Linked DNA regions of Homo sapiens. The protein of the gene in region 1 purifies or fractionates together with the protein of each later gene. This does not show direct contact. Each region holds a gene or a part of one and is shown in the gene's direction. Other genes may lie near its edges.

Region 1 (3,657 bases):
ACTCCGTCTCAAAAAAAAAAAAAAAAGGAATGTATACATAGATAGTTGTCTAAAGAGACTGATAGTAAAATGTTAGCCATGCTTATCTCAAGTGGTAGGATTTTGATTTTTTTTTTTTAAATATTTTAATCTGGGTTGTTTTTATTTTCTAACGTGTCATTTTTGTAATCAGAAAAAGCAAAAACTATACATTGAATCCAAAGAAGTCCGATGAAAGAGTATTTGAAGGAAAGTTCTGTGACCAAGTCATATTTTCTCTGCAGACACGTCAAGTTCTTGAGGAGCTGACTGAGTTGCCTGTGATGGTGGAACTAGCAAGTGACTTCCTGGACAGAAACACACCAGTCTTTCGAGATGATGTTTGCTTTTTCCTTAGTCAATCAGGTGTGTTAATTTTAAAGACTTAAAAGGAAGGAAAGTTATTCTTTCTAATAATTCTAGCATATCTTGGCAAAAGCTGATATTTAAAGATAAACTGGCATTGCAGATGACTTGACGAATACAGATTTATTTTAATGTTACATAATTCTTTATGAATTAGTAAAAATGAACACCTTTTGTGTTCAAAGAGCTGGATTTTCAATGACAGAGAAGGAAGAGAGATCCTGACAAGCCATATTACTTAAAGTTTTATAAATTTATTAAGTGGATGTTTTGTATTTTATTTAAAACAAGTAATATTGTTGAAAGTGTGGTCAATTTGTTTTTGCTCCTAAGAAACAGCATATGTTAAAACTGTTCTGTGTGTTATGGTTGGCCTACTTTTTACACAGGTGAGACAGCAGATACTTTGATGGGTCTTCGTTACTGTAAGGAGAGAGGAGCTTTAACTGTGGGGATCACAAACACAGTTGGCAGTTCCATATCACGGGAGACAGATTGTGGAGTTCATATTAATGCTGGTCCTGAGATTGGTGTGGCCAGTACAAAGGTAAATTCTTGACTCATTTCTCTGATGATTATTTAATCATAGTGTCAGTGAAGCAGACTAGTCTGTAGACTAGTCTGTATCTTATTTTTGTTAGCAGTTATAGAACTCACACATTTTATTTTTGTTAGCAGTTATAGAACTCACACATTTTACTAATCATTGTAATTATTGTAGGACTTTAGGGTCAGATAGATAAAAGACTTGTCATTCTCTCCCTCTTCCTGATAGAGTTTAAAAGGGACTTATGTATATAATGTAAGTCCATTTTGAAAAGGTCTCTGCTGGCTATCCTTGTCTATCGCTTACTGCCCTCCTGCTAGGCACAGTAGGATACATAACAAGTATATAACATCCCCTTCTTTTATGAAGTATAGTCTGGAATTTGAAAAGTAACAAATTAGAAACATCCACTTTAACCATTTTTGGAATTTTTATTTACCTATTTATGGTTTCTAATAAATAATGTAAAAATATACATACTACCTCTGAAAGTTTGTAAGGAGGAATACACCTTTGGTATAAAATTTGGCAACTGCCAGGCATGGTGGCTCACGCCTGTAATCCCAGCACTTTGGGAGGCTGAGGCGGGCGGATCATTTGAGCTCAGGAGTTCAAGACCAGCCTGGCCAACATGGTGAATCCCGTCTCTACTAAAAATACAAAAATTAGCCAGGTGTGGTAGCACGTGCCTGTAATCCCAGCATACCCGGGAGGCTGAGGCAAGAGAATCACTTGAACCTGGGAGGTGGAGGTTGCAGTGAAGCGAGATTGTGCCACTGCACTCCAGTCTGGGTGACAGAGCAAGAGTCCATCTAAAAAAAAAAAAAAAAAAAAAAATTTAAAATTTGGCAATTAAAAAAAATTTTTTAATGAGTATTGTATGACAATATCTTTCTCTTTAGATATTGCTCTGGGGAGGTTTAAAGGTACTGTCTTGTGTTTTGAAGGCCTGGTAAGACTACTTTGCTCTTTGGAATTGGAATATGCATAAATTTAGGTGGCTAATAAAAATAGGAAATCTTAGAAAGTTGTATAAATACAAGAGATGTTATCCCTCCACAAGTGTTTTTTTGGGGTTTTAGGTTTGTTTGGTTGTTATTTAGAGACAGGGTCTTGTTTTGTCACCCAGGCTGGGGCTGGAGTGCAGTGACAGGAATCATAGCTCCCTGCAGCCTCAGACTCATGGGCTCAAGTGATCTCTGCCTCAGCTTCCTGAGTGGCTGGGACTGCAGATGCACCAGGCTAGTTTTTTTTTTTTTTTTAAGATGGGGTCTCACTATGTTGTCCAATGTGTTACTTTTTATGATTTCACATTTTTGTTTTCTCAATATTTTTCTACTTAAGTTTGATATTTCTTGCTGATTATCTAATAAGATGTTGGGATATTGGTGGATTTGAGTTTAATTAAAGGATTGTGAAAGACAATGTTAATGTGTACATAACTGCATTTGAATTCTTTTCCCTCAAAGATTCTCATAGAGAATTTTTTGTAGAAAGTTTGTGATTCTTATATAAAAATTCTTCTTTTCTTTTTCTTTTTCTTTTTTTTTTTTTTTTTGGAGACAGACTCTCACTCTGTTGGCCAGGCTGGAGTGCAGTGGCGTGATCTCAGCTCACTGCAACCCCCGCCTCCTGGGTTCAAGCGATTCTCCTGCCTCAGCCTCCCAGGTAGCTGGGATTACAGGCACCTGCCACCACGCCTGGCTAATTTTTGTATTTTTGATAGCAATGGGGTTTCACCATGTTGGCCAGGCTTGTCTTGAACTCCTGACCTCAAGTGATCTGCCTGCCTCAACCTCCCAAAGTGCTGGAATTACAGGCATGAGCCACACTGTACCTGGCCCCCCACCTTTTTTTTTTTTTTTGGAGACAGGGTCTCTCCTCTTTATCATCCAGAGTACATAGAGTGCAGTGGTGCTCATGGCTTACTGCAGCCTGGACCTTCCCAGGCTCAGGTGATCCTCCCACCTTAGCCTCCTGAGTAGCTGGGACTACAGGTACAGGCCACTACCCATGCCTGGCTAATTTTTGTATTTTTTTGTAGAGACGGAGTTTTACCATGTTGCCTAGGCCAGTCTCGAACTCTTGGGCTCAAACGATCTGCCTGCTTTGGCCTCCCAAAGTGCTGGGGTTACAGGCATAAAAACTCTTGAGTGAGATTTTTATTTCTTGGGTATTTCGATATTGCTAACACTATAATTTACAGAGTGCTGAAACTTGAATTTTCTCCATATGGTAATTAAAACGTGTTACATGTTTGTGCTTGGGTTTCCATCCTGTGGCTGAATAAATGACCAGCCACCTTTAGTAGCACTTAAGGATTTGATTGGGGGATTGGAATCCCAGAGGCTCTTTATTTATAACAGATTGTGAAACAAGGGCTACAACGTGGTGTATGTGGGATATGGGATTGTTTGGATGGATGCCATTGACTTAATCTTTTCATAAAATGTTTCTGGAATTGTGAGCTGCCAAGGGAAATATATATTTTACATTTCTCATTCCTTTGTTTATGAGAACTTTAATTTGCCTCAACATTTTATGATGATGATTTTCAAATATACAGCAGAGTTTTAAAAATTTTACATACAGGCTGGGTGCAGTGGCTCACAACTGTTATCCTGGCACTTTGGGAGGCTGAATTGGGAGGATCACTTGAGGCTAAGAGTTCAAGACCAGCCGAGGCATCAGAGTGAGACCTTATCTCTATAAAAAATACAAAAATT
Region 2 (3,657 bases), on another chromosome or scaffold:
CTAGCCAACCACTAAATCCTAAGGTGGGAGAGATGCAGGCTTTGGCTAGGTGCTAAGCTGCTGTAGCCGGTTGAATGTAGAGGTCACTATCTTTTCCGAATACCTGTAAGTAAATTAAATCATTCTCTACTCCCATGTGCCTGCCAACCTAATGGGAAATCGCTATAGAAAAGATGGTTTAAATTTTAGTCTTTGAAGTGGTTTATGCACGTTTCCGGAATCAAGATTTAATGCAGAGTTGGATTGGATATTGAATATTTTTGATTTGTCTGCTTTTCTCTCCATAGAAAGCTTATAGCTTCATTGCACCATGTGTGGCATTTGGGCGCTGTTTGGCAGTGATGATTGCCTTTCTGTTCAGTGTCTGAGTGCTATGAAGATTGCACACAGAGGTCCAGATGCATTCCGTTTTGAGAATGTCAATGGATACACCAACTGCTGCTTTGGATTTCACCGGTTGGCGGTAGTTGACCCGCTGTTTGGAATGCAGCCAATTCGAGTGAAGAAATATCCGTATTTGTGGCTCTGTTACAATGGTGAAATCTACAACCATAAGAAGGTGAGGAGAAAGAAACCAGATGTCTGGATGCGATTAAACTTCAGAGTTTGTTGGTTACGATGATGTTACATATTCTGTATCATGCTTTTTCCTTTGCAAAGCACTCTATGTTCGTTATCTCATTTGCTCTAAGTATGTAAATAGGGAACTGATGAATAAAAAGGTGAGTGAAATGACTTGGTCACAAAAAAAGTGATAAAAATGGGGATTACAGTTCAGTTTCATTGACTCTTAGAATTTTTTCTCCTTCTCCCCAGCTTTTCATTTTGAAAAAATTCCTAACATACAGTAAAGAACAGAACAACAAGCACCTAGATTAAATAGTCATTAATGTTTTGCCATAGTTGCTTGATTTTTCTTTCTACACACACACACACACACACACACATGTTTTTGCTGAATCATTTGAGAGTACAGTGCAGATATTATGACACTCCTAAATATATAAGCATTTATCTCCTAAGAATAAGGACATTCTTCTACATAACATCAATGCCATTATTAAACCTAAGAGTCCATAATACCACCTAATATCCAGTTAATACTTAAATGAAATTTCCCTAAGTGTCCCAAGAATATTTTTATTTATTTATTTATTTTGAGACAGAGTCTCATTCTGTCACCCAGGCTGGAGTGCAGTGGTGCGATCTCGGCTTACTGCAACCTCTGCCTCCCAGGTTCAAGCAATTCTCCTGCCTCAGCCTCCCAAGTAGCTGGGACTACAGGCACCTGCCACCATGCCCAGCTAATTTTTTGTATTTTAGTAAAGACAGGGTTTCACCATGTTGCCCAGGGTGGTCTGGAACTCCTGAGCTCAGGTAATCTGCCCACCTTGACCTCTCAAAGTGCTACCAAGAATATCTTTATAGCTGGTTCTTGTTTGTTTTGAGCCAGATTTCATTCAAGGTTCATGCATTTGGTTGGTATGTTTCTTGGTATTTTTTGAGACTTCTTGATAGATACCTGTCAGGCATTGATAGAGATTTACATCCTAATCACATTTTGGACATTTTTATCTGTGAACAATAGCTTTTGTCATTGTTTGTTGCCTGCTCATAGGAAGACTCTTAATAATAGTCTTCTCATTTAAAAAGTTTTAAAATAGTTATTCAGGAAATTCCTTTTACACATTTCTTTATTCCTTTATTAAGGGTCTACTATGCACCAGACATCATTTTTCTAGGTGATTGGAGATGAAATGGTGAAAAGGAAAGGCAAGAATGGAATTTCCTGCTAGTGGGAGGTAGAAGAAGAGAGTATTAAAAATTTTTTCTAAGTCAAATAATGTCATATACATGAGAACGCTAGGTGGTATTATGGCATTATCAGCTTGGCTTTCCCCTTAAATGAAATAGGAAGTGCCCTGTTTCACTTGAACAGTGTTATTTCTTTTATTAAAAAGTTACAAGAAGTTAAATATTTTGAAAATAATTAATTTCTATTCTAAATTAGCCAAATGTTATATTTGTAAAAGTAGAGAAGTTTGTTCCATTGCTTCTACCAAGCATCTAAGTTTATGTAGTTGGGGCAGCTAGCAGTCTGTCTAATGAGCAGAATGTATACTTTAGGCTTATATAAAGTATTCAGAAATCCCCCCCACACCTCCTTTTTGGTAAAAATAAAGTTTACCACTACAATAAAATACAGCCAGAGGTGTACTGGGAGTAGAAGGAGACTGAATGAAAGAAAGGAGGAATGGGGTAAAGGCTGGGGCAAAGAGCAGGCCCTCTCCCTGCAGGGGAGTATCAGGGCCTGCAGCCAAGTCAAATGACAGCATGACGTCAGGAGGCAAGATTTGAGGGCTTTTATTTAAGGTGCAGCATTGGAGTTTGGTTTTAGGAGAGTAGGAAGTAATACATCCGTTACCCAAAGGACCCTTCTCCTTTTTAAATAAGTTACCTGCAAAGTTTAGGCCAAAGAGGTGGGTAAGGTAGATTTGGGAAGCTGTTGCTTACTAATATCACCGAATGCTTTATGGTCACTAACCCTTCAGGCAGTTCAGCCCAGAAGAGTCAGCAGAAGACTGTTTACAGGCCCCCACCTGCTAGTTACAGATCATCCCTGATAGAGCAGAGAGGGGTGACCAGGTAGTGACTTTGTAGTCACTGGAGGCAAAGCCCATTTTTGGACAGTTCAGTGAGGACTTATAGACAAAAGATTCACAAATTATGGAGTGAGTTGGATGGAGTGTGAAGCATATTTATGGGTCATGCACATACATAATAGGTTTACTTTTTGAAATTTGAAAGCATGTTTTAAGCTTATCTAGGATTTCCACCTGATTTAAACCTCTTCTTTCTCTAATGTCAGCCAAAAACCCGAGTACAAAGAAGAAAGAGGAATACATCAAGGACTTTTCATCCTCATAGTTTGCCATTAATGGCTCATAGTTTGCCGTTGATGGTGGAGAGTGTCAGAATTGGGGAGTAGCCTAATCAAACCTTCTTACTCTGCATGCAGTGGCAGACAGTCCCTTTGCTGTTCTTTTGGGGAATGCAGACTAATAAAGCGCCACCGTCATTTTATCTATCAGTAAGGAGTAGCTTTAATGCTGCTGCAGTGGTGGAAGCACTGGGCATTGTCATCCACCCCTGGGGACCAGCAGCTTTGTTTTGGATCATGTATCTGTTATTGTGATGGAGCCATTTATTTTTCAGGGAATGATGCCAAATGATGTTTGTCCCTTTGCTTTACATTTTTATAGCTAGGACTTTGAAGCTGAACTGGAGGAACTTCTTAGCCAATACTATCTTCTCAAATCAAAAGTTTATAGTTGCAAAAGACACGTTTTTTAGTGTCATGGCAACCAGGCAACCTATTATCTTAACTTAAATTTAGAGGTTGAGCATCCCTAATCTGAAAATCTGAAATTTGAAATGCTCCAAAATCTGAAACTTTTTGAGCACTGACATGACATTACATGTGCATTTTGATGTCACAGTCAAAATGCAGGTGTAAAACACGCAGTTTATTTGGCGTTCCCTAGGGAAAAAAGACCCTCTCAGCCCGCTTCAGCTGCAGTATAACTTTTCTACACATGCCCGGATTTCCCCATGCAAGCACGCCCACAAAGGGTAATAGAATGGCACATGTTCAAG

The links. The genes of interacting proteins can lie anywhere in the genome.
Region 2: the proteins of GFPT1 (region 1) and ASNS fractionate together in Homo sapiens (co-fractionation; one large-scale study listed by BioGRID). This does not show direct contact.

Annotation. Positions count from the first base shown.
Region 1 is NC_000002.12:69,335,172-69,338,828, reverse strand, and holds part of GFPT1 (glutamine--fructose-6-phosphate aminotransferase [isomerizing] 1), read left to right. Parts: intron 1-263; coding exon 264-384; intron 385-773; coding exon 774-931; intron 932-3,657.
Region 2 is NC_000007.14:97,865,810-97,869,466, reverse strand, and holds part of ASNS (asparagine synthetase [glutamine-hydrolyzing]), read left to right. Parts: intron 1-287; 5' UTR 288-310; coding exon 311-559; intron 560-3,657.